Homo sapiens: one gene and its partner. The protein of the gene in region 1 purifies or fractionates together with the protein of each later gene. This does not show direct contact. Each region holds a gene or a part of one and is shown in the gene's direction. Other genes may lie near its edges.

Region 1 (3,752 bases):
AGCAGTCTATGTATGAGGCTTCCTCTGGAGGTGACCCTTAAGCTTGAAAATTGTGCCAGAGCACAATCTGGCATAGTAAAGAAAGGTGGGAAGGGCACTACATGGCCAGGCACGGTGGCTCATGCCTGTAATCCCAGCACTTTGGGAGGCTGAGGCGGGCGGATTGCTTGAGCTCAGGAGTTCGAGACCAGCCCTAGCAACATGGTGAAACCCAGTCTCTACAAAAAGTACAAAAATTAGCCAGGCCTGGTGGTGTGCATCTGTGGTCCCAGCTACTCGGAAGGCTGAAGTGGGAGGATCACTTGAGCCCAGGAGGTTGAGGCTGCAGTGAGCTATGATTGTGCCACTGCACTCTAGCCTGGGCAACAGAGCGAGAGTCCTGTTAAAAAAAAAAAAAAAAGCGGCCAGGCGCAGTGGCTCACGCCTGTAATCCCAGCACTTTGGGAGGCCGATGCGGGCAGATCACCTGAGGTCGGGAGTTCGAGACCAGCTTCCCCAACATGGAGAAACCCCTTCTCTATTAAAAATACAAAATTAGCCGGGCGTGGTGGTGCATGCCTGTGATCCCAGCTACTCAGGAGGCTGAGGCAGGGGAATCACTTGAACCTGGGAGGCGGAGGTTGCGGTGAGCCGAGATCACGCCATTGCACTCCAGCCCAGGCAACAAGAGTGAAATTGAACAACAACAACAAAAAAGGTGGGAAGGTAGATGAAAAAGCATCAATAAGGCACTGAGGTGTGAAACAGTGTGGTCTGCCGGGTTTAGTATGTGCGAGCAAAATAAATATGCAGGCTGAGATTAGTGGGATGAGGGTGGGAAGGGCCTTGTGGGAGCATTAACAAGCTTGAGCTTTGGGACTTTTCTGTATATGATAAAATTGATGTCTGTATAGGGTACAGTGGGGACACAGAGGAGGAAGTGAATACTTGTACCCAAGAGGTCATGTAAGACTTAGGTTTTACTATATTTGAATTATTTTTACACTAACAATAGCCACATTTATTTCCCTGCTGGCTGTGTGCCTGCCACAGTACTTTACAAATATTATCTCTTCCAACCCTCACACCATCCTTGCGAAATGGGTGTTATTACCTCTACACAGAAGGGGAAGGGAGGCTCAGACAGGTTAATAATGTTCCCAAGGTCACTAGAAAGCTAGCCCGGATCCCAAGAGGTCTTAAAGCACTAAAATATACTCTTCTAAGAAGAGCTTCTTGAGGTCAGGGATCATGTCTTTTGTTTTTGCGTGCCCAGACCTAGGTCTTAGAAGACGCCTAATAAACATCAGTTGAAAAAAATGACTGGATGATCTTTCACTTTTTCCACGCAGAAAACACGTGGCGACATCACTGAGAAACCTCCCGGCCAACAGAGGGCGCGACGTCCATTTCAGCGCAGTGGGGCCCAGTTGCGGACGCCTAGCTTCCTTCCGTCCTTTGGCTGAAGTTCAGCCAATCCCTGCGCTCCGAGAGAGCCGGCGGCCAGTGGGCAGGGTCACAGGGCAAGGTCCCGCGGGCCGCTGGGTGCGGCGACTTCCGTGCTCCCGGCGAGCGGGCGGAGAGCGGGGGCCGCACTGGGGAGTGTGGGCTGGGCCGCAGGTGAGCGCGCGGTCCCGGCGAGCAGGTCGGGTCAGCCCAGGCCAGTAACCTCTGAGTTACGGGAGGAGTGATCGCTAGGGTCCACCCCGGTCCCGGCCAGATCTGCCAGCTCCCCTCTCTGGCGGGTGTTCTGGTGCCAAGTCTGGGAGCCCAGGTAGCCCTCCGCAGACAGGGCTTCTCGGCACCTCAATGAGGACGGACGTTGATGAGGCCATGAATGAGGTGGGCTAGGGACAGGGGACCGGGAGACTCACAGAAGGGAGAAGGGTAGCCATTTGGATGGACCTTCGCCTTACTTGCGCTCCCATTCCTGGACTGCGCTCTAGTGACTGTCAGGGCTAATTCTTCCGCCTTCTCAGGCCTCCTGTGTCCTTGTTAGTAGTTCTTGAATTTGGGACTACGGCTTCTGGCCTCGTTGGGCCTCCGGGCCCTCGCACTGGGGCAGGTTTCCCAGCAGCCCAGTTGACCTTTACCGGATGCTTTTGGCAGACGTCCTCCATGCCGGGCTGGAAATATGCGTCACAGTGTTTTTCAGACACTTTTGCCTCTTTCATTGTGATACCCTGCCTGGGGACGACTATGATGGAGTCTTTAGGTTTTTGTAATCAGCAAAGGCATCTGTTATGCTCCTGCCACCTTTTGGGGGAGAGTGGGTGGAGGATGTTGTGATTTTACACTAGGGAGTTTGGGCTGTCATTCATTCGTTCAGCAGACCTTTTTTGGGCACTCTGCCAGGCAGGGTAGGAGAGGTGCCTGGATGGATAGGGCATAATTGGGCCAGACAGACACGGTTCTTAGCCTTTTGGAGCTTAAAGTGTCTTGAGAAACGCAGACAGGGTAAGCCAGCATCGTGCCTGACACAGAGTAAGTGGTTATAAGTGTCGAATAAAGGAATGAATTGACTTATTTGGGAATGATTAGAATGTGAGCAGGACGGTAGCGAGAGACTTTATGCTGCATGTGAGAGATAGTTGTGAACTCATGCGCGATATGTTTTAAGACAGGTTTGGAAATCTGAACGGACAGTTGCTATTTAGGGAAGCATTTACTTATACAGAGGACTTGCTTTAAAGGTGGAAGTAAAATGGAGAAGTATTAGGTTTGGGATTCTTCAGAGGTGCCTCTTTTAACTATTACTATGTCTCTGAATTTCATAAATCCCTGAGTACAATCTCAGAGTTTGGGAAAAGGAAAGCTCTTCTAGGTAATGAAATGCCAGGCTGATGGGAAAAAACTGTAGGAAGCTCTCCCTAAGTCCAGGGTTTGGACAGAAACCGTATACCTCTGCAGTGTGTTCTTCCCACTAGAAAGAGTGTAGGCTTTGAAATTGGAGAGGCCTGGGTTCAAAATCAGTGGCTCTATCACTTCTAGTGATCTTGGATAAGTTAACATAATGTCTGTGAGCCTTTGTGGCCTTCACAAGAGTCTGGGCTAATAATTCCTACATCATAGAGGTGTTATGAGGATCAAATGATGATTAGTGTGTAAATTGTCATCATAGTGCCTGGTGCTGAGACAATAAGCGGGGGAGTCTTGGAGATGCTGCAATTTTTTTTTTTTTTTTAAATTTCATGATGCTGCCTTATTGCAGGGGTCCTTAACCCCCTGGGCCACAGACCAGTGGTGGTCTTCAGCCCATTAGAAACTGGGCTGCACAGCAGGAGGTGAGCGGTGGGCAAGCTGGCAAGCATTACCGCCTGAGCTCCACCTTCTGATAGATCAGCAGCGGCATTAGATTCTCACAGGAGTGCAAACTCTATTGTGAACTGCGCATGTGAGGGATCTACGTTGTGTGCCCCTTATGAGAATCTAATGCCTGATGATCTGAGCTGGAACAGTTTCATCCCGAAACCATCCCTCTCCAACCCCCATCTGTGGAAAAATTGTCTTCCACGAAACTGGTCCCTGGTGCCAAATATAGATTGGGGACCGCTGCCTTATAGTGTTACGTCTAGAGAACATTGGGATTCCTTCAAAGAGAATTGGAACCAAAGAGAGAGGGGGAGAATCATCTTATCCTTGGTGAGGTTTCGATTGTTCACTTTAGATCAGAGATAGTAGTGTTGGAGAAATACCTACAGGGGCATAAACAGAAAGATCTTTTAGTGGATACTTTTGGGCAAGTCTCTTAACCCTCTGATAGTGGGTTATGT
Region 2 (3,652 bases), on another chromosome or scaffold:
TTATATTCCTAAGGAACAGTACATTATGAAAACCACATTTCATAGAGATGATTGGAAGAAAAGTGTACCTGGGGCTAGAGCATTTTTAGACTTGGAATAACAGCCTTTTCCTCTTTCCATAATTTGAGTATAAACGTCTTAAAAAAAAAAAACCAAGCACGGTATATTGCAGCAAAACCTAAACACCAAACAAATCTAGCACTAGATTGATTGTACTTGACTCCATCAGGTGTGGTCATGGGCTAGTTAACTTTCTGTCTCTCTTGTTTCCCTATGTGTGAGATGAGGATAATAGTGCTTACTTTATGAATTACTGTGAAGATGAATTGAAAACATGTAAATTGTAAGGGGCACAGAGTAAGTGCTGAGGAAATGTTTCTTGCAGTCATCATCACTGTGATTATCATAATTGGTTTCATTTGTTTGTCTATGATTTTTGTTTGTCAGTGGTGGTATGTTGCTTGAGAATGATGGTCTTTTTAAAAGTAGCCCACACTGTCATATCACATTTTACCATATACATTCTTATCACCCATTTTATGATAAAGTTCAGAACCAGTTAAACAGGGCTTTTGTTTGTGTGACTCCTGTGAGGTGACCAGGGACTAAGTGGGTCCAAGGTTGACTCTGTAAGCTGACTGACTTGGGCACTGCTGGAAAGAACTTCCCTGGTGTGGATCAGAAGTGCCTTAGAGTGTGGTGACAAATGAGAACACAGTCTAAGTCTTAACTCACCACTTACTAGTGATGACTTTACCTCCCAGCCCATTTCTTCTATAAAATGAGGTTGCTAGAAATGTCTCCTTTAAAAAGATGGCATTAGTCATATATCAGGCATTGATTTACTTTTTAGGTTGAAGCTCTTAAAAAGAATCATTATAGGTCTTAGAAAGTAAAGAAATAGAAAGTAGATTATTCTTCCAGCCCCCTTCCATGCCAGACATGCTTAGTTTTCCTTGTAACTCATTTGAATTAATATGTATGTAGGGCTTAGAGCAATGTTAGCTGCTACCATTATTAAATTATTTTACACTGATTTATATTTTTCTTTTACTTGCACATTTTATCCAAGTCTCCAGAAAAGTATACATCAAAGGTTTTACTTTAGAGGAGTTACTTAGAAATAGCTTTCATTTTACTACTCAATGGTAGAGCCGTCTTTCCAGAAGAATGTGGTAATGGTTTCTGTGAAATTTGTGGAATCATGTTTCAGTTGATGTTTATGATTTAGGTATGGTGACAAGATTAAGGTCTTATTAAGAGTAGTGGTAGGGTGATTTGTGAATAAAAACAAAGACCTATGTAACAGAATTTATTAATAGACCCCATGTTGAATTAAGCAGTTGTGTTTTAGCCACCTTTCAGGCTGTTACAGAGGTTGTATTTTTGTTACCTGTGTATTACAGGTTAAGTATGCCTTATCTGAAATGTTGGCACCAGAAGTATTTTAGATTTGGGATTTCTTAAGGATTTTGGAATATTTGCGTTAATACCTACTGGTTGAGCATCCCAAATCTGAAAATGGGAAATCCAAAATGCTCCAGTGAGCATTTCCTTTGAACATCTTGTTGGCACTAAAAACACTTTCTAATTTTGGAGCACTTCTGATTTCAGATTTTCAGATTTGAGATGCTCATCCTATGTTATAATCATTACACACATCACCTATTTAGTAAAAGCCAACATGTATATGTGCCCTGGTCTCATCTCTCAACCTTGCAAAATCTGTTACACAAAGGAAACCAGGAAGTCAAAGTTACCATTTTCACTTTATTATCTTACAAGCCAAGGTGCTAGGAAATCTTACATGAATGAATATATTTTGTCACAAATTTTTTTTTTTTTTTAATTGAGGTGGAGTTTGCTCTTGTCGTGCAGCTGGAGTGCAGTGGCTCAATCTTGGCTCACTGCAATCTCCGCCTCCCAGGTTCAAGCAATTCTCCTGCCTTAGCCTCCCGAGTTGCTGGAATTACAGGTTCCTGCCACCGTGCCCGGCTAATTTTTGTGTTTTTAGTAGAGACGGGGTTTCACCATGTTGGCCAGGCTGGTCTCGAACTGCTGACCTCAGGTGATCCACCAGCCTTGGCCTCCCAAAGTGCTGAGATTACTGGCGTGAACTACCAGGCCCGGCCACCACTGACTAATTTTATAACCTTGGACAAATCACTTTACCTCCAAAGACCTTAGTTATTTTATTTATTAAAAGATGTTTAGACAAGATGATTTTCTAATTTTCTTCCAGTTCAAAAATGAATAGAATTCTGAGTTACTTGTTCAACATCTTGTCTTTTAATGTTAGTCAACTCTTCCTTCCCTATTGAACTTGTCATATTGTTATCATAGAAGCCTATAACATATAAATGGGATTTTTGTATCCTACTGACATTTATTTCAGTTAATATGTAGTACAGGGGTTAAAAGCATGATTTTGCCACATACTAGAGGACAAATTATCAGTTTTCTTCTGCTGTAAAATGGGTATGATAGGAGTTACCTACTTTATAGAGTGATGTGAGGTTTAAATGCATTAATAACGTTTTAAGTACTTACAGTAGTGCTGTGTGCATACCAGGTGTTCAGTAAATGCTAGATGTTATGGTGTTGATGATTCATAATCTTCCTCATTGGAGATGTCCTGATACATTCTGAGTGTGGTTTTGATTTTTATTGATTTACTGAATGATTTCACCAGACAAGTTAGAATCTGGAAAACTATTGAAGATAAAAGTGGTCCTCAGAGCAGAAGCTAAGCAGTGTTATTGCAAATAGGTGATGCTTTTCTGTACATACTGAAATATAACGTGATTATTGAATCTGAGTTTTGGGTGTTGAAAGTGACCTTAGAAAGGGTGAGTCCCTGCTCTCTCATTTTACTTCTGTGGAAATTGAGGCCCAGGAAGTAATGTGACTCAGCCAAGGTGACATAGCTGCTTTATGCAAAGCCAGTTATCTTCATGTTTTTTCAGGATATTTGTTTTTCCCCAAATCTTGGCCATTGAGTGTTTAATGTACAATCCTTTTACGCCATTTAAACAATGGTATTGAATCTGGCTTTTGTTAAAGCATCTCACGAGAATCTTGATTTTAGCAGAATGTTGTTACTGCTGAAATATACCTTAAAAATAAGGAGAAACAGTCACAGGAAGGAAGCTGATATCCAGAAACATGAATTAATTTTAACTATGAGAAAAATCAATGCTGTCATTTTTATTCAGCTTGTTTTATTTTTACCGTGAATAAACTTGTTGGGTTCTCTCTGTGAGCATTATCTTAAATTGAATAGTCTCTTGAAACTAGCTGCGACCAGGAAGAGGCCCTCCAGGTAAAAAGCAGGACCTGAAAGCACTCTGAACTCTTTGAGATTTCTAGTTGGGAGAAATTGTTTCAAATGTTTGTATTTCTTTTTTAAAGAATACTTCTTTACTAAACATTGTCTTGAAAAAATTACTTTGAGAGTACTCATTACAAAGTTGGTTTTCTTGCATTGTATTTTGTTCATTGGCTTTTCATATTTGTCTTCAGTTACAGGTTTATGATAATGGATCGCTTTGGGAGTGACCTTCAGAAAATATATGAAGCAAATGCCAAAAGGTTTTCTCGGAAAACTGTCTTGCAGCTAAGCTTAAGAATTGTATGTGAGCTATGTTCTTCT

What was found. Proteins that work in one complex are often made in the same cells at the same time.
Region 2: the proteins of SMIM12 (region 1) and VRK1 purify together in Homo sapiens (affinity purification with mass spectrometry; one large-scale study listed by BioGRID and IntAct). This does not show direct contact.

The regions. Positions count from the first base shown.
Region 1 is NC_000001.11:34,857,524-34,861,275, reverse strand, and holds the start of SMIM12 (small integral membrane protein 12), read left to right. Parts: upstream 1-1,526; 5' UTR 1,527-1,599; exon of another isoform or gene 1,600-3,752.
Region 2 is NC_000014.9:96,849,309-96,852,960, forward strand, and holds part of VRK1 (serine/threonine-protein kinase VRK1), read left to right. Parts: intron 1-3,522; coding exon 3,523-3,631; intron 3,632-3,652. UniProt on the Homo sapiens protein: Serine/threonine kinase involved in the regulation of key cellular processes including the cell cycle, nuclear condensation, transcription regulation, and DNA damage response.